Linked DNA regions of Homo sapiens. The protein of the gene in region 2 purifies or fractionates together with the protein of the main gene of each other region. This does not show direct contact. Each region holds a gene or a part of one and is shown on either strand. Other genes may lie near its edges.

Region 1 (7,437 bases), on a different chromosome or scaffold from region 2:
GAGGGATGAGGAGGATTTAATCAAGTGGAGAAGAGAAGGGTGTGGGAGAGGAAAGTGGGTATTTCAGGCAGGGAACAACATGGCCAAACGCGCAGAGGTGAGTCAGGCTTGTGGGGACAGGAGCAAACTGTTGAGAATTATCGGGCTGGAGACGTGTTGGTCAGGGGCCAAATATGTGCTGCTTCTTGGAGAAATCTGAAGGAATGGCGCTGAGGCTAGCCACACATGCCTCCTGTGCCCTGAGCTTCCCTCCCTCGGGGCATGAGGTCAGGAAGCTCAGGCAAATCACCTCTCCCTGCCTTTTAGGACGATGACCGGGGTGAGGAATGGGAACGGCATGAAGCGCTGCATGAGGACGTGACCGGGCAGGAGCGGACCACTGAGCAGCTCTTTGAGGAGGAGATTGAGCTCAAGTGGGAGAAGGGTGGCTCTGGCCTGGTGTTTTATACTGATGCCCAGTTCTGGCAGGAGGAAGAAGGAGGTAATGCTGGTACCCAGGCAAAGGCAGGGGTGACCCCTGCTGCATTCTTTTGGGGTTCCCTGTTCCACACGGTAGATTCTGTAGTGGTGAGCCCAAACAAAAGGCTAGGGAACAGGCTGACCTCTATTGTATACGAGAGACCAATCATCCTTTTTAAGAGTGGGGATCAGTGAGATGGAGAGAAAATGCCCCCCGCCCCGCCCCCAACAAATTCTGAATAACCCTCCCAGAGGAAGGATCTTAAAATACAAACAAGCTGGGTGCAATGGCTCATGCCTGTAGTCCGAACTACTTAAGAGACTGAGGCAGGAGGATCACTTGAGCCCAGGAGTTCAAGGTTGCAGTGAGCTATGATTCCACCACTTTACTCCAGCCTGGGGGACAGAGTGAGACCTTCTCTAAAACAAACAAATGCCCCGCTGGGTGCAGTGGCTCACGCCTGTAATCCCAGCACTTTGGGAGGCTGAGGTGGGCAGATCACGAGGTCAAGAGATCGAGACCGTCCTGGCCAACATGGTGAAACCTCGTCTCTATGAAAAATACAAAAATTAGCTGGGTATGGTGGCATGCACCTGTAGTCCCAGCTACTTGGGAGGCTGAGGCAGGAGAATCACTTGAACCCGGGAGGCAGAGGTTGGAGTGAGCCAAGGTCATGCCACTGCACTCCAGAATGAGATTCTGTCTCAAAAAAAAAAAAAAAAAAAAAGCCAAAAAAACTCTAGGTTTAACTCTTAATAGAACTGAGAGTCCTTAATGTACTCTGTTGGATGCTTTTCTGTCCCTACAGATTTTGATGAACAGACAGCCGATGACTGGGATGTGGACATGAGTGTGTACTATGACAGAGGTACTGGGCAAGGAGTGGCAATACTGGAGGTGAAACAGGTGCCCTGGCCTTGCAGTGACACTTTACCAGAGCTAGCAAAGGCTGAGACAGGGTACCGTTCCCGTTCCCTTGGGGTAGCCCACTGAGAGGGTTCCTCTTAAAACATCTTTGGTTGTGTACATTAAGTGCTAGTTTTGGACAGAGCCTTCATCCTTTCTTGGAGGAGGAGGAGGGATAGATAGCCCTTAGGGGCTCTAGGTCTGATGGTCAGGCCCTGGTAGGGTGGGCTGGTCAGAAGCTCAGGCTCTAGTAAGGGTTTAGATTTTAGAAGAGGAAATGACCCGGGTGGGGGAAATAGCCAAGTAGGGGAGGGAAGACCTGGGTTCTAATCCTCTCTCTGTCATTTGTTGGCTCTGTTACTTTTCTGCACCACAATCTTCTCATCTGTATGATTGGGGAGAGCCATGGTTCCTACTTTTGGGGAGCTCCCAGTCTAATGAGAGAGATACAGAACACTATTAAAATGAATAAGTCAATCTTACGAGGGGGTCCTAGAAACCTGATTCTTCCCCCTTCTTTGAGAGGGACGCTTCCATAAACTGAGCTCTGTTTCCTCAGATGGTGGAGACAAGGATGCCCGAGACTCTGTCCAAATGCGTCTGGAACAGAGACTCCGAGATGGACAGGAAGATGGCTCTGTGATCGAACGCCAGGTGGGCACCTTTGAGCGCCACACCAAGGTGAGTTAGCACTGTGCCCACCCCATGGACCCCTCTCTTTTCCTTCTCTACTTTAATTCCTTCTCCCATCCCCATTCTCCCTGCTCCCAGCAGGAGCCCCATTTCTTGAGTCTTGTCCCTTCACTCTGCAGGGCATTGGGCGGAAGGTGATGGAGCGGCAGGGCTGGGCTGAGGGCCAGGGCCTGGGCTGCAGGTGCTCAGGGGTGCCTGAGGCCCTGGATAGTGATGGCCAACACCCCAGATGCAAGCGTGGATTGGGGTAAGTGTGACTGAGGGACTTCCCTGGGGGCCCAAGCCTTTCAGCTATGCCCTGGTTTCCCTCTTCCCACTGGTTTTGGCATGGCTGCTGGGTACTCGTGCGGGATGAAATTCAAAACAGTTAAGAGGAAAAAGTGGATCTGGGCCAGGCACGGTGGCTCAAGCCTGTAATCCTAGCGCTTTGGGAGGCTGAAGTGGTAGGATTCCTTGAGCCCAGTTTGAAACCAGCCGGGCAACATATGAGACTGTCTCTGTTAGAAAAATAAAAAGTCCGGGCGTGGTAGCTCACGCCTGTAATCCCAACACTTTGGGAGGCCCAGGTGGGCAGATCATTTGAGGTCAGGAGTTAGAGACCAGCCTGGCCAACATGGTGAAATCCCCGTCTCTACTAAAAATACAAAAATTAGCCGGGCGCAGTGGCTCATGCCTGTAATCCTAGCACTTTGGGAGGCTGAGGCGGGTGGATCACGAGGTCAGGAGTTTCAGACCAGCCTGATCAAGATGGTGAAACCCTGTGTCTACTAAAAATACAAAAAATTAGCTGGGCACGGTAGTGGGTGCCTGTAATCCCAGCTACTCAGGAGGCTGAGGCAGGAAAATCGCTTGAACCCAGGAGGCAGAGGTTGCAGTGAGCCAAGATGGCGCCACTGCACTCTAGCCTGGGTGACAGAGCAAGACTCTGTCACAAAAAAAAAAAATTAGCTGGGCATGGTGGCATGCGCCTGTAGTCCCAGCTACTCTGGAGGCTGAGGCAGGAGAATCGCTTGAACCCAGGAGGTGGAGGTTGCAGTGAGCCGAGATCACGCCATTACAATCCAGCCTGGGTGACATAGTGAGACCCCATCTCAGAAATAAATAAATAAATAAAGTAAATCTGACTTTTTTTTTTTTTTTAAAGAGTAAGCCCTAAGGCTTAACAAGATCATTCATACCCTTTGTTGGAGGAGTTTGGACTTGATGGTTACTATTAGGAAGTCTGTAGTGACAGAATGAAAATTTTATATGAGGCCCCTTCTTGCTGGCACTGTCAATGGATAGATAAGAGGGCTGGAGAACAAAGACCCAGATTTAAAGCCTCTGTCTTTGGACAAACCAGATATGTAGTAACTACTTCCCCGTCCTCTCCCAACCCCTTTAACTGGAGTTTGAGAGCAGCCTTCTCACTGAGAGCCCGTTTTTATCCAGGTACCATGGAGAGAAGCTACAGCCATTTGGGCAACTGAAGAGGCCCCGTAGAAATGGCTTGGGGCTCATCTCCACCATCTATGATGAGCCTCTACCCCAAGACCAGACGGAGTCACTGCTCCGCCGCCAGCCACCCACCAGCATGAAGTTTCGGACAGACATGGCCTTTGTGAGGGGTTCCAGTTGTGCTTCAGACAGCCCCTCATTGCCTGACTGACCGGGTTGGGGGCTTCCTTTCATAGCTACATGATGAAAACCCTCTGCCCTGGCCTCATCTACCACTGAAGCAGAAAGGAGTCTGGGAGCAGCAGTCTTCGTGGCTGGTTCAGGGTGTTTTGTTCCGAGCCTGCCTGCCTGCCGGTTCTATACCTCAGGGGCATTTTTACAAAAAGCCCCCTCCCGTCCCCTCCCCTTGGATATTAGGGGTAACGACCGCTTGTCTTTGGTCTCTAACCCTAATCTCTGGGCTTGCCCTTTGCCTCCTGCAGAACTTTGAAAAGCTGGGTTGAGTGAGGCTATCAGCACAGCCTTCCTTGGGGACTCTGAAGGTGTCCCCACGAAGGCCAGAAAGGGGGAAAGGGACCTGGGCGAGGAGAGGATTTGTGGTGCTTGGAAGAGCCGGCCTTGGGTGGGCCCTCCACCGCCTCTACCCTCACTGGGTGGGACTGCCAGCGGAGAGTCCGCGGGAGGTGGCTTGGGTGTGCGACGTCACGGAAGAATAAAGACGTTTACTACTGGAGCTCCCTTACTTTTCTAATTCGAGTCTGAAGGTTAGAGAAATTCCGAGAGCGATTTTCCCGCAAAGACCCCACATTCGACCCACTACCCGCGAGAGAAATGCGGCTGCGCCGCCCGCCCCTCGGCGTCTAGCTTCGTCCCCGCCGTGAGGGCGGGACTTCCTCTCGTTGGCTCGCCGTTTCCGACGCTGTCCGGAAGTCGAGTTAGTCTAGTTAGTATCGGCCTGTTATCTCCTTTTGCGCGACACGGTCTCAGCTGTTCCGCCTGAGGCGAGTGACGCTGGCCGCCAACGAGGTATACGTACTGGGACCCTCGCCCTCAGTCTCGTCTCCGGCGCGGCTACCTGCCCCGTTTTCCCTGTGAGTTGACCTGCTCCGGGCCGCGGGCCGCCAATGGCAGGGGCCGCTCCGACCACGGCCTTCGGGCAGGCGGTGATCGGCCCGCCGGGCTCAGGGAAGACCACGTACTGCCTGGGCATGAGTGAGTTCCTGCGCGCGCTGGGCCGGCGCGTGGCGGTGGTGAACCTGGACCCGGCCAACGAGGGGCTGCCGTACGAGTGTGCCGTGGACGTGGGCGAGCTGGTGGGGCTGGGCGACGTGATGGACGCGCTGCGCCTGGGGCCCAACGGCGGCCTGCTCTACTGCATGGAGTACCTGGAAGCCAACCTGGACTGGCTGCGTGCCAAGCTCGACCCCCTCCGCGGCCACTACTTCCTCTTCGACTGCCCAGGCCAGGTGGAGCTCTGCACGCATCACGGCGCCTTGCGCAGCATCTTCTCCCAAATGGCGCAGTGGGACCTCAGGGTGCGTCTCAGGGCGGGGAGGCCCATTTTGCGGATGGAGTAACTGAGACAGGGAGGACAGACGCCACGCCCCCATGTCACACAGGGAGGTAGGGGCTGGGTCGCTTTGGAGTAAAACAGGCATGAGTTCAGAATCTGGCTCTGCTACTGACTGGCTGTGTGGTGTTGATAAGTCAGTTCATCACTCTGAACCTCAGTTTCCTCACGTGTAAAATGTGTTAGTAGCCAACTTGGCGATTTTGGAAGTATGGAAGGGGTTAATGTCGAAAGTGGCATGGAGATTGTTGTAAATTGGTGGGCAAAAGTAAATGAAAGAGTGGAGTCAGATGCCATGGGATTTAAACCCCTTGCCCACTGGGAGGCTCAGTGCAAGACCTCTTGTAAGAAAAAAAAAATGACTCCTATTTCCTGGGAGAAGGAAACCAGGGTGGTTATTAGAAAGAAACAGAGGCAGGAGACTAATGGGGAAAGCTTCCCCTCTGTCCTCAAGCCCTCATTCTCATGAGGGAATGCTGATCCCTGTTTCTCCAGGCCACTCTCACCCTGTCTATTCCCTCCCAGCTGACTGCCGTCCACCTCGTGGATTCTCACTACTGCACAGACCCTGCCAAGTTCATTTCAGTACTGTGTACCTCCCTGGCCACCATGCTGCACGTGGAACTGCCCCACATCAACCTCCTTTCCAAGATGGACCTCATTGAGCATTATGGGAAGCTGGGTAAGAGCTTCTGTTCCAGGCGAAGAGCAGGGCAGCAGCTGGGCTAGAATGAAGCAGACATCTCAGCTGAAGGTAGCTGCCTCTGGTGCCTTGCGTGGTCTGGTGATAGTAGCCACAGGCAGGTTCTAACTCCTGCCCATTTATTTTGTGCCACTCTGTGCTAGTTACCGTTGTAGATTTTGGAGACAAGAGAGCTACAGATGGTGTTAGGTGTTACAAAGGAATTAAAGTGATACGACAGTGAATATTTGGGAGTGAAGTGAGTGAGCTTTGGAGTAAAACAGGCATGAGTTTAAATTCTGGATCTGCCACTGAATCATCGTGTGGTCTGGGTAAGTCAGTTCATCTCTCTGGACCTCAGTTTCTCACTTCTGCTCTGAAGCAGTGGCATCTGAGCTGAGACATGAATGGTGAGAAGGAGCCAGCCAAGGGAGGACTGTTCTATGCAGAGGCACTAGTAGGAATAAAGGCCTTGTCTTAGTCAGTTTGTGCTGCCATCACAAAAATACCATAGACCAGATGGCTTAGCCAATAAATATTTATTTCTCACAGTTCTGGAGGCTGGTAAGTCCAAGATCAAGACACAAGCCGATCTGGTGTCTGGTGAGAGTCTGCTTCCTGGCTCCTAGACAGCCTCCTTCTGTCCTCACAGAAGGAGGCTATATTCTCACCTGGCACAGAGACAGAGAAGGGGTGGGAGGCCAGGGACAAAATAGGGAAGATTGAGGTAGAAGCAGGCTGGTATGAGGCAGGGGAGTTGGCTAGAGTCCCAGTGGCCAGCTTTTTTTTCTTGATAAATTAGTACTCTCGGCTGGGCGTGGTGGCTCACGCCTGTAATCCCAGCACTTTGGGAGGCCGAGGTGGGCAGATCACCTGAGGTCAGGAGTTCGAGACCAGCTTGACCAACATGGAGAAACCACATCTCTACTAAAAATACAAAAAAGTAGCCAGGCATGGTGGTGCATGCCTGTAATCCCAGCTACTCGGGAGGCTGAGGCAGGAGAATCGCTTGAACCTGGAAGGCGGAGGTTGTAGTGAGCCGAGATCTCGCCATTGCACTCCAGCCTGGGCAATAAGAGTGAAACTCCGTCTCAAAAAAAAAAAATTAGGCCAGGCGCAGTGGCTCACGCCTGTAATCCCAGCACTTTGGGAGGCCGAGGCAGGTGGATCACGAGGTCAGGAGCTTGAGAACATCCTGGCTAACACTGTGAAACTCCGTCTCTACTAAAAATACAAAAAATTAGCTGGGCATGGTGGCGGGCACCTGTAGTCCCAGCTACTCAGGAGGCTGAGGCAGGAGAATGGCGTGAACCCAGGAGAGGGAGTTTGCAGTGAGCCGAGATCATGCCAGTGCACTCCAGCCTGGGCGACAGAGCAAGACTCTGTCTCAAAAAAAAAAAAAAATTAGTACTCTCCTGAACTGGGGACATTGTTCCCTAAATAGCATCTCTAGCAACAAAGGAACCTAGAGAAGACAGATAAAATGACCAGCACATGAGCAATAGGGAGGTTGTTGGGAAAGGGAGGTGTCGGGACCTTGTCCAGGGAGGCCAGTTAGCTTCTAGTCTGGACATGGAGTGATGTAGAGTCCTCAGCTTACTTTAGGATAGAGCTGCCAGGGAGCCCAGATACTTAAGTTTTCTGGGCAGAAACAGGCCACTAGGGGGAAGTCCAACTTACTTCTTTTAG
Region 2 (7,022 bases):
GGCCAAGCTGCCCACCTCGGCCTCCCAAAGTGCTGAGATTACAGGTGTAAGCCACTACACCCAACCCTCCTTCCTACTTTCTATGCCCTTAAGTGAGTCCTTTAGTTTTTCTCAGCCTCAGTTGTACCATTTGTAAAATGTGGATGATTCTTTTTGTCCTCATCTTCCTTATAGGGTCCTACAATATAAAAATCAAATTGCATCACAGCCAGCTGTAAGAATGCTTTGTTATTCCTAAAACCCTTGAAAGATGGGCTGTTACTGTGGGGCTAGGAACATCCTGTTCTGAGGTTGTGGTTCTGCTTGTATACACGCCAGAATAAAGACTATGAACGTAACCCAGTTTTCCCCCAACCACTCCTCTGTTCTCCGCAGGACTTCCTCATGGAAACTTTTATCATGTTCAAGGACCTGATTGGAAAGAATGTCTATGCCAAAGATTGGATGGTGATGAATATGACTCAAAACAGGTGAGACAGCCCATGGCTGGCCCTGAGGCATTTGTCTGAATACCTAAGGCTGCTGTGTGAACTTTGGGAAATGTCTTTAAATCCCTTTGCCTCAAACCCATCATCTGTAAAGTGAGGATCTTCCTGCTCCAGAGGTCCTAATTTATGTGCTCGTGATCTTGATTTTCCCAGGGTAATTGCCTTTGCTCCACCTCGGGCTCTCTACTCCCTTCTCTAGCGTCGTCTCTTCAGTGCTCTCATGGTAATTGTCATCCTCAACTCTCCACTGCACCTTTCCGTGGCTCCACGTGGCCTGTGTCATCCTGATATTCAGGGCTCACCAGTTAGTGTCTGTTCTATGACCGGTCCATGATGTATTTAACCAGATTCTTCTTATGAACATTTAGATTCTTTCCATTTTCTATTAATGTGAAATAGCACTGTCATGGCCTTCCTTGCTTTACATATTTAAAAATATCCATGGTTATTTTATCAGGATATACTCCTAAAATAATTTAGTAGTTCAAAAGTTTGGTGAAATTATAGGGCTTTTGATACACAGTGCCAAACTAACTAGTTGCTTCTGCTACTTCCCTGTGTATGCTACCTGTACTCCAACCAAACTGGCCTCTGCCCAGTCCCTGAACACATGGTCTGCTCTGCCTCACACCGGTCTTCCGCTAGCAGTGCCTTCCCCATAACCTCTGGCTGTCAGCATTCCAGCTATTCCATAAGGTTCTTCTGAAGCGTCACCTCCAGAGGAAGCCTTTCTGACCTGGATGTCATCTCTTCTTCCTTCGATTTTCCATACCCCATTCAAACCTTCTTATAGAATTGTTTTCAGATTCTATGTTGGGTAATAGATGTACATGTTGTTAATTTCCCCAACCAAGCTGTAAATTTCTTAAGATCAGAAACTGTGTCTTTCAACACAGACGTGAGCCTGTGCCTTGCAATTGCTAGCCCACAACAAATACTTGTTGAACAGAAGTGAAATGAACTGAATATATATTATATTAAAAGAGTGTTAGAGTTTAATGAGATAAATAAACCATTATTGTAAGCATTATTATTAACTCTACATGATACCCAATTCTGAGTAATTCTACTCTAACACCTGATTAGAAGAAGCCTTCTCTGCTATGTACAGATTAGATTTAAAAAATTACACCAGAAACCCTAAGCTTAAACAGAAGGATCATAATAGAGTCTATATATATTACCCTCCTCTGAGGCTTAAGAGTCCTGGTTTGCAGTCTCAGATCTACCTTCAATTACCTAAATTGGGATGTGGCCCTGAGTGGCTCTTCTTGTTTGTTCTGTAAACTGACCTCCTGTGCCCCATCTGCGGATGGTGTTATGCTGTTGTCTGCAAGGACACTGTTAGATTATGAGGTCTTATGATGCCAAGTTCAGGTTTGGTTTGGTTTAGTTCTTAATATAGGTGGGAAAAGGTTTCAAAGGACATACAGTTGGCTTCTTTATCTGGTGTTTTCCTTCCGCAGGGTTTTTCTCCGTGCTATAAATCAGTTTGCTGAAGTTCTCACAAGATTCTTCATGGATCAGGCAAGCTTTGAACTTCAGGTAGGCATGTGACTCACCTACCTGCTTCTAGAATTCTTGGCCATGGCAAGAGAACTATATGAATTTGGAAAATGTCTCCTCAGATTTCACTGTTTTCACATGAAAAAGGTTTTCCTGTGTTTTTTCATTTCCTAAAGCACATATGCCTGTCACACTGTCCTCCAAACACAACAAAATAGGGGTGGTTTCTTCTTTCTATAAAGGTAACATATGTAAAAAAAAAATCTTAAAGAGTAATAGTAGAAGATCAAAAATATAAATAGTCCTCCTTGTCGCTATAAACATTTGGAGTTGACCCTTTGTATATTTACACAAATGCACATAGACACACATGGCTACAAATAAGCACACAGGTAACTCTCCTACCGACAAATGAGTTTGGTTCTAAAGAACAGTTCTTATGCACAGTTTGTTGAAAGTCCAAAGGAATTGCAAAACGGATGACCGCTAGCTCTATTTTCATTCATTCATTCATTTACTTATCCATTCATCCATTTAACAAATGTTAGAGTACTTACATGTACAGGGCCCTGTTTTGCGCCCTGGTAGGGGCATTTCCCTGGTGAAGGCAGATAAGTTCCTTGCTGTCATGGAGCTTACCTTCCAGAGTACTCTGCATTTTGTGGGTGATGTGCTTTCTGTGTTCTTTGTCTTTGCGTGTATCTGTGGAACTGTTATCAGTGGAGGTCCTTGACTACAGATTGTCCAAGTTCTTGACGTTTTGAACAAAATGCACAAACAAAGCAATGAAAGAATGAAGCAATAAAAGCCAGATTTATTGAAATGAAAGTATACTCCACAGAGTGGGAGCAGGCTCAAGCAAGTAGCTCAAGAGCACTGGTTACAGAATTTTCTGGCGTTTAAATACCCTGTAGAAGTTTTCCCATTGGTTACTTGGTTACACCCTATGTAAATGAAGGAGTAGCATGTGACCAGTCTGACCCTCCCACCAATTGTGGGAGGGGACTAATCAGAGGTACTTTCAATTTTTCATCTGCCACAGAGTGCAAAGGGGTAGCCTCTGATCCTTTTGTTACTTGGGTGTGGAGAGGTGGGGTTTTCCTTTTGATTCAGTTCTAGGAAGTCAGTGTGAATTGGCCTTCAGTGCCCTGCCTCCAGGCCCTGTTTTCCTGCCTCAGAACTTTAAAAGTTGAAAATCATAAGTAGAGGAAAGTATACACACATACACACACAGAGATGCATGCACATATAGATGAATATATATTGTATGTATGTGTATGTATATTTGCCAAAATGGAATTGAGCTGTGCAGTTCTTTGGTACTCTGTTAATCTGTTTTCCTTTTTCAATGATCTGTGATCTTTTCAATAATGTTGAATATTTTCCTGTTTTTAATGGCTGAATATCATCTGTTCTATGACTGGTCCATGATGTATTTAACCAAATTCTTCTTACGAACATTTAGATTGTTTCCATTTTCTATTATATTAAATAACACTGTGATGGACTTCCTTCCTTTAAATATTTAAAAATATTCGTGCTTGGCTGGGCACGGTGGCTCACGCCTATAGTCTCAGCACTTTGGGAGGCCAAGGCGGGCAGATCACCTGAGGTCAGGAGTTTAAGACCAGCCTGGCCAACATGGCGAAACTCCATCTCTACTAAAAATGCAAAAACTAGCTAGGCCTGGTAGTGGGTGCCTGTAATCCCAGATACTCGTCAGGATAAGGCAGGACGCTTGAACCTGGGAGGCGGAGGTTGCAGTGAGCCGAGATTGTACCACTGTACTCCAGCCTGGGCAACAGAGTGAGACTCTGGATCAAACAACAACAACAAAATTCATGGTTATTTCATCAGGATAAAGTCCTAAAAGTGTTTACTAATTCAAAAGTTTGGCAAACTTTTAGGACTTTTGAAACATAGTGCCAAAGTACATACTATAAATAGATACACTTCTTGGCAGCAGTTTTCCTTTATCCCAGGAGTAAAGAAAAATATAATAGCTTAAATTTTTTTAAAAAGCTTAACATTAAGTCTCAAAACTTTTAGGATTGAATAATCAAAACCTAAGAAGAATGTAGATTGTATTTTGTTCTTTCATTAATCTCTTGTTAATGACTTTTTACCATGTGACATTGTTTTATTATGGCCCTTATTAATGTTATTTTTCATTTCCCTTTACCCACACAATTAATTTTGAACAGCTCTGGAACAATTACTTCCATTTGGCAGTTGCATTTCTCACCCATGAGTCCCTTCAGCTTGAAACCTTCTCACAAGCCAAGCGCAACAAAATTGTTAAAAAGTAAGTGTCCTTTTAAAGTTAAGATCGGGAAGGGGCTTCTTCCATTTGTTTACATTGAGAGCAATATTTTAGGTATCACAGAAATTACTATTTAGTGGCTACCCATGTTGTTAGTGAGGTAAGTCTTCAACTAATTACTTAATAGGCCTCACATTCACCCAGGTTCAGCTCTCTTTTCTTAAGGCCCAACCATCTTCCCATCAGTCATCCCATGCTTTTTATCAAATCTGTACCTGGAGACGGACCTTGGCTGTCAGCTTGCCCATCCCCAAGAACAGCTGCGCCTCTGCTGGCAGCTTCCCCAAATTGCAGGCATAGTACCTCCTCATTCATAGCGCTTCACAAAGCACACTCCTTCAGCACAGTTGCTCCACCTCCCTGCCATTTCAGCAGAGAAAGCCAGGTCTCAGACATTGCATTAAAATGCCCTCCAGATTCCTGGTTTGGAATTCAAAATGGAATTATGTGCAGAAGTGATAAGAGATTTAGGGAAGCATTTCATTTCATTGAGAGACTGGAATCCAAAGACCATGTCGTTAAAAAATAACTTGAGGAATGTATTATTTGAAGACTTTGAAATTTTAGTTGTGTTCCCCTTGTTGGGATATCTGCGATATGTAGGAAAATTATTTAGTGTCCCTCTACTTCTGGTTCCTCCCTCAAAAACTGCCTACATATACAAAAACAGCAAAGTATTTTTTGCTCCCAAGGACCAATATTTATCCCTTTGTGGACAGTATCACTCCCATTGAGAGTGCATGGTGTAGAGCCTTCCAATGTGAATATTTTGAAAAACACGCTAGAATGGATGTATATTACCCCAATATCAGTCTATAAAGTATATAAGTATTTAGTCACCTGTTAGGCATTAGTCACAGTACTGTATGATCATACTTCATTCACCTTCCTTTTCATCAGTGTTTGCCGTGTTTTGTTTGGCTTTGTCTGTGCCTCACTCTTCTCCCTGAAGTGAGTTTGTTAATCTCATCTTCTCAGCTATTTTTCAGCGTTTCCATTTGGCTTTATTGCGGCACAAGGTCCCCCGGCCTCTGTGCGCCTCATTCCTTTTGGGGGCTCGTTTAGGTATGAACCTCATCTCTTAAGGTTGGGCCTTAAGAGTGACCAAGAGAGACACAGACTGTTTTTACTTTCCTTCTTATTGTGTTTATGCAATTCATTTCTACTGAAAATCCTCCTTCTAGTTTATGATCTTCTTCCTAGATATGGGGACATGAGAAAGGAAATCGGCTTTAGAATCCGGGACATGTGGTATAACCTGGGTGAGTGTCTAGCCTTGAACAGGCCTGATCACAACCTCTGAGTGATAAGCATCCCACGATAAAGTCTTTTTTTTATTTTAATCCAGATAACCCTGAGATGTATTTGTCTGTGTGTCTGGAAGTGAAAGTTGATTTGTGGGTTTCATTGACAATGAACTGTCTCTTACTCTGGCATCCACATGCTATCAGAATCTGAGTCACTCACTTCTGAATTGAGTTGTTTTAACCTTTTCTTTTCTTATGGAACTTGTGGAGGAAGATTTTAACACTTTACTTTCAGTGAAATAATTTTTTAATATCTTCATTCACTTTCATTTCAGGTCCCCACAAAATCAAATTCATCCCATCCATGGTGGGTCCCATTCTGGAGGTCACTCTGACCCCTGAAGTAGAGCTCCGGAAAGCCACAATCCCCATTTTCTTTGATATGATGCAGTGTGAGTTCAATTTCAGTGGAAATGGCAATTTCCATATGGTAAGAAGTGGCAGACCGCGTAATATTAGTAAATGGACATATAGTCAAATCATAACTCATTTCTTTCTATATAGAGAAGCAGTAACCTTAATAATGCAAGTCCATGTTGATCTGAAAGTTCACTTTACATTTCATTTTATAAAGCAATTAGAGATAGAGTCAGACAGTGCAACCCAGAGCCTGGAAAAGATTTTTTTGCTACATGTCTTTCCTAAGGCAACACCTGTCTGTAGAAAATTAAAGGAAGTTAACTTCATGCATTTTAATCCTAGCTGTTTCAGTATAGCCTAGAGAATAATGTAGTGAATTGAATTTAAAAACCTATCTATTATAGTACGGCTGAAAGCAGTGCAATGGATTAAGTTCTAATCCATTACTCTGTAGCTTTGAGAATGTCATTTTCCTGGTATGTCTTCTCTGTGCCTCTGTTTTCTTATCTACAAAGTGTATTAATATTGAAAGGACGATTTCGCATCTATGAACCTCTGCAAAAGCAATCTCACTGCAGAGACTTAGACATGAAACTGAAGTAAAATAGAAAAACAAGAATTATTATTCTATTTTTATATGAATAGTTGTAACAGAAAGCAATGTTTTGGATAATATGTTTTTAATCAAATGTAATGCAAAGGACAAAGTAACATGAGACTTTGTTAGAAGATTTTGATAGGGCCTTGGTGCACAGTTTATGAGTGACCCTCTGTGATCCTCCCTGTCTGTGCTGGAAACAGTTCACAACTCAGCGAATGGGTTGGCCAAGTCTAGAAAGTTGGCCATGTCTTCTTCTAAGGATGCAACATTATCCTGTGAAATTCTGCCTCTACTTTCAGTTTGAGAATGAGCTGATCACAAAGCTGGACCAGGAGGTAGAAGGGGGCAGAGGAGACGAACAATACAAGGTTCTTCTGGAAAAACTGTGAGTATTTCAGGAACGAAACCTGAAGTCAGTGGTGTCATTTAGTAATAGA

Evidence for each region. The genes of interacting proteins can lie anywhere in the genome.
Region 1: the proteins of DOCK5 (region 2) and GPN2 purify together in Homo sapiens (affinity purification with mass spectrometry; 2 studies listed by BioGRID and IntAct, with this or other methods). This does not show direct contact.

What each region holds. Positions count from the first base shown.
Region 1 is NC_000001.11:26,887,280-26,894,716, reverse strand, and holds the start of GPN2 (GPN-loop GTPase 2), read left to right. Parts: upstream 1-4,433; 5' UTR 4,434-4,620; coding exon 4,621-5,031; intron 5,032-5,591; coding exon 5,592-5,748; intron 5,749-7,437. Other genes in the region: GPATCH3 (G patch domain-containing protein 3), read left to right, coding at 307-481, 1,269-1,328, 1,926-2,047, 2,179-2,306, 3,491-3,707. UniProt on the Homo sapiens protein: Small GTPase required for proper localization of RNA polymerase II and III (RNAPII and RNAPIII). May act at an RNAP assembly step prior to nuclear import.
Region 2 is NC_000008.11:25,362,672-25,369,693, forward strand, and holds part of DOCK5 (dedicator of cytokinesis protein 5), read left to right. Parts: intron 1-375; coding exon 376-470; intron 471-1,954; coding exon 1,955-2,033; intron 2,034-4,198; coding exon 4,199-4,299; intron 4,300-5,520; coding exon 5,521-5,579; intron 5,580-5,899; coding exon 5,900-6,054; intron 6,055-6,884; coding exon 6,885-6,970; intron 6,971-7,022. UniProt on the Homo sapiens protein: Guanine nucleotide exchange factor (GEF) for Rho and Rac. GEF proteins activate small GTPases by exchanging bound GDP for free GTP. Along with DOCK1, mediates CRK/CRKL regulation of epithelial and endothelial cell spreading and migration on type IV collagen.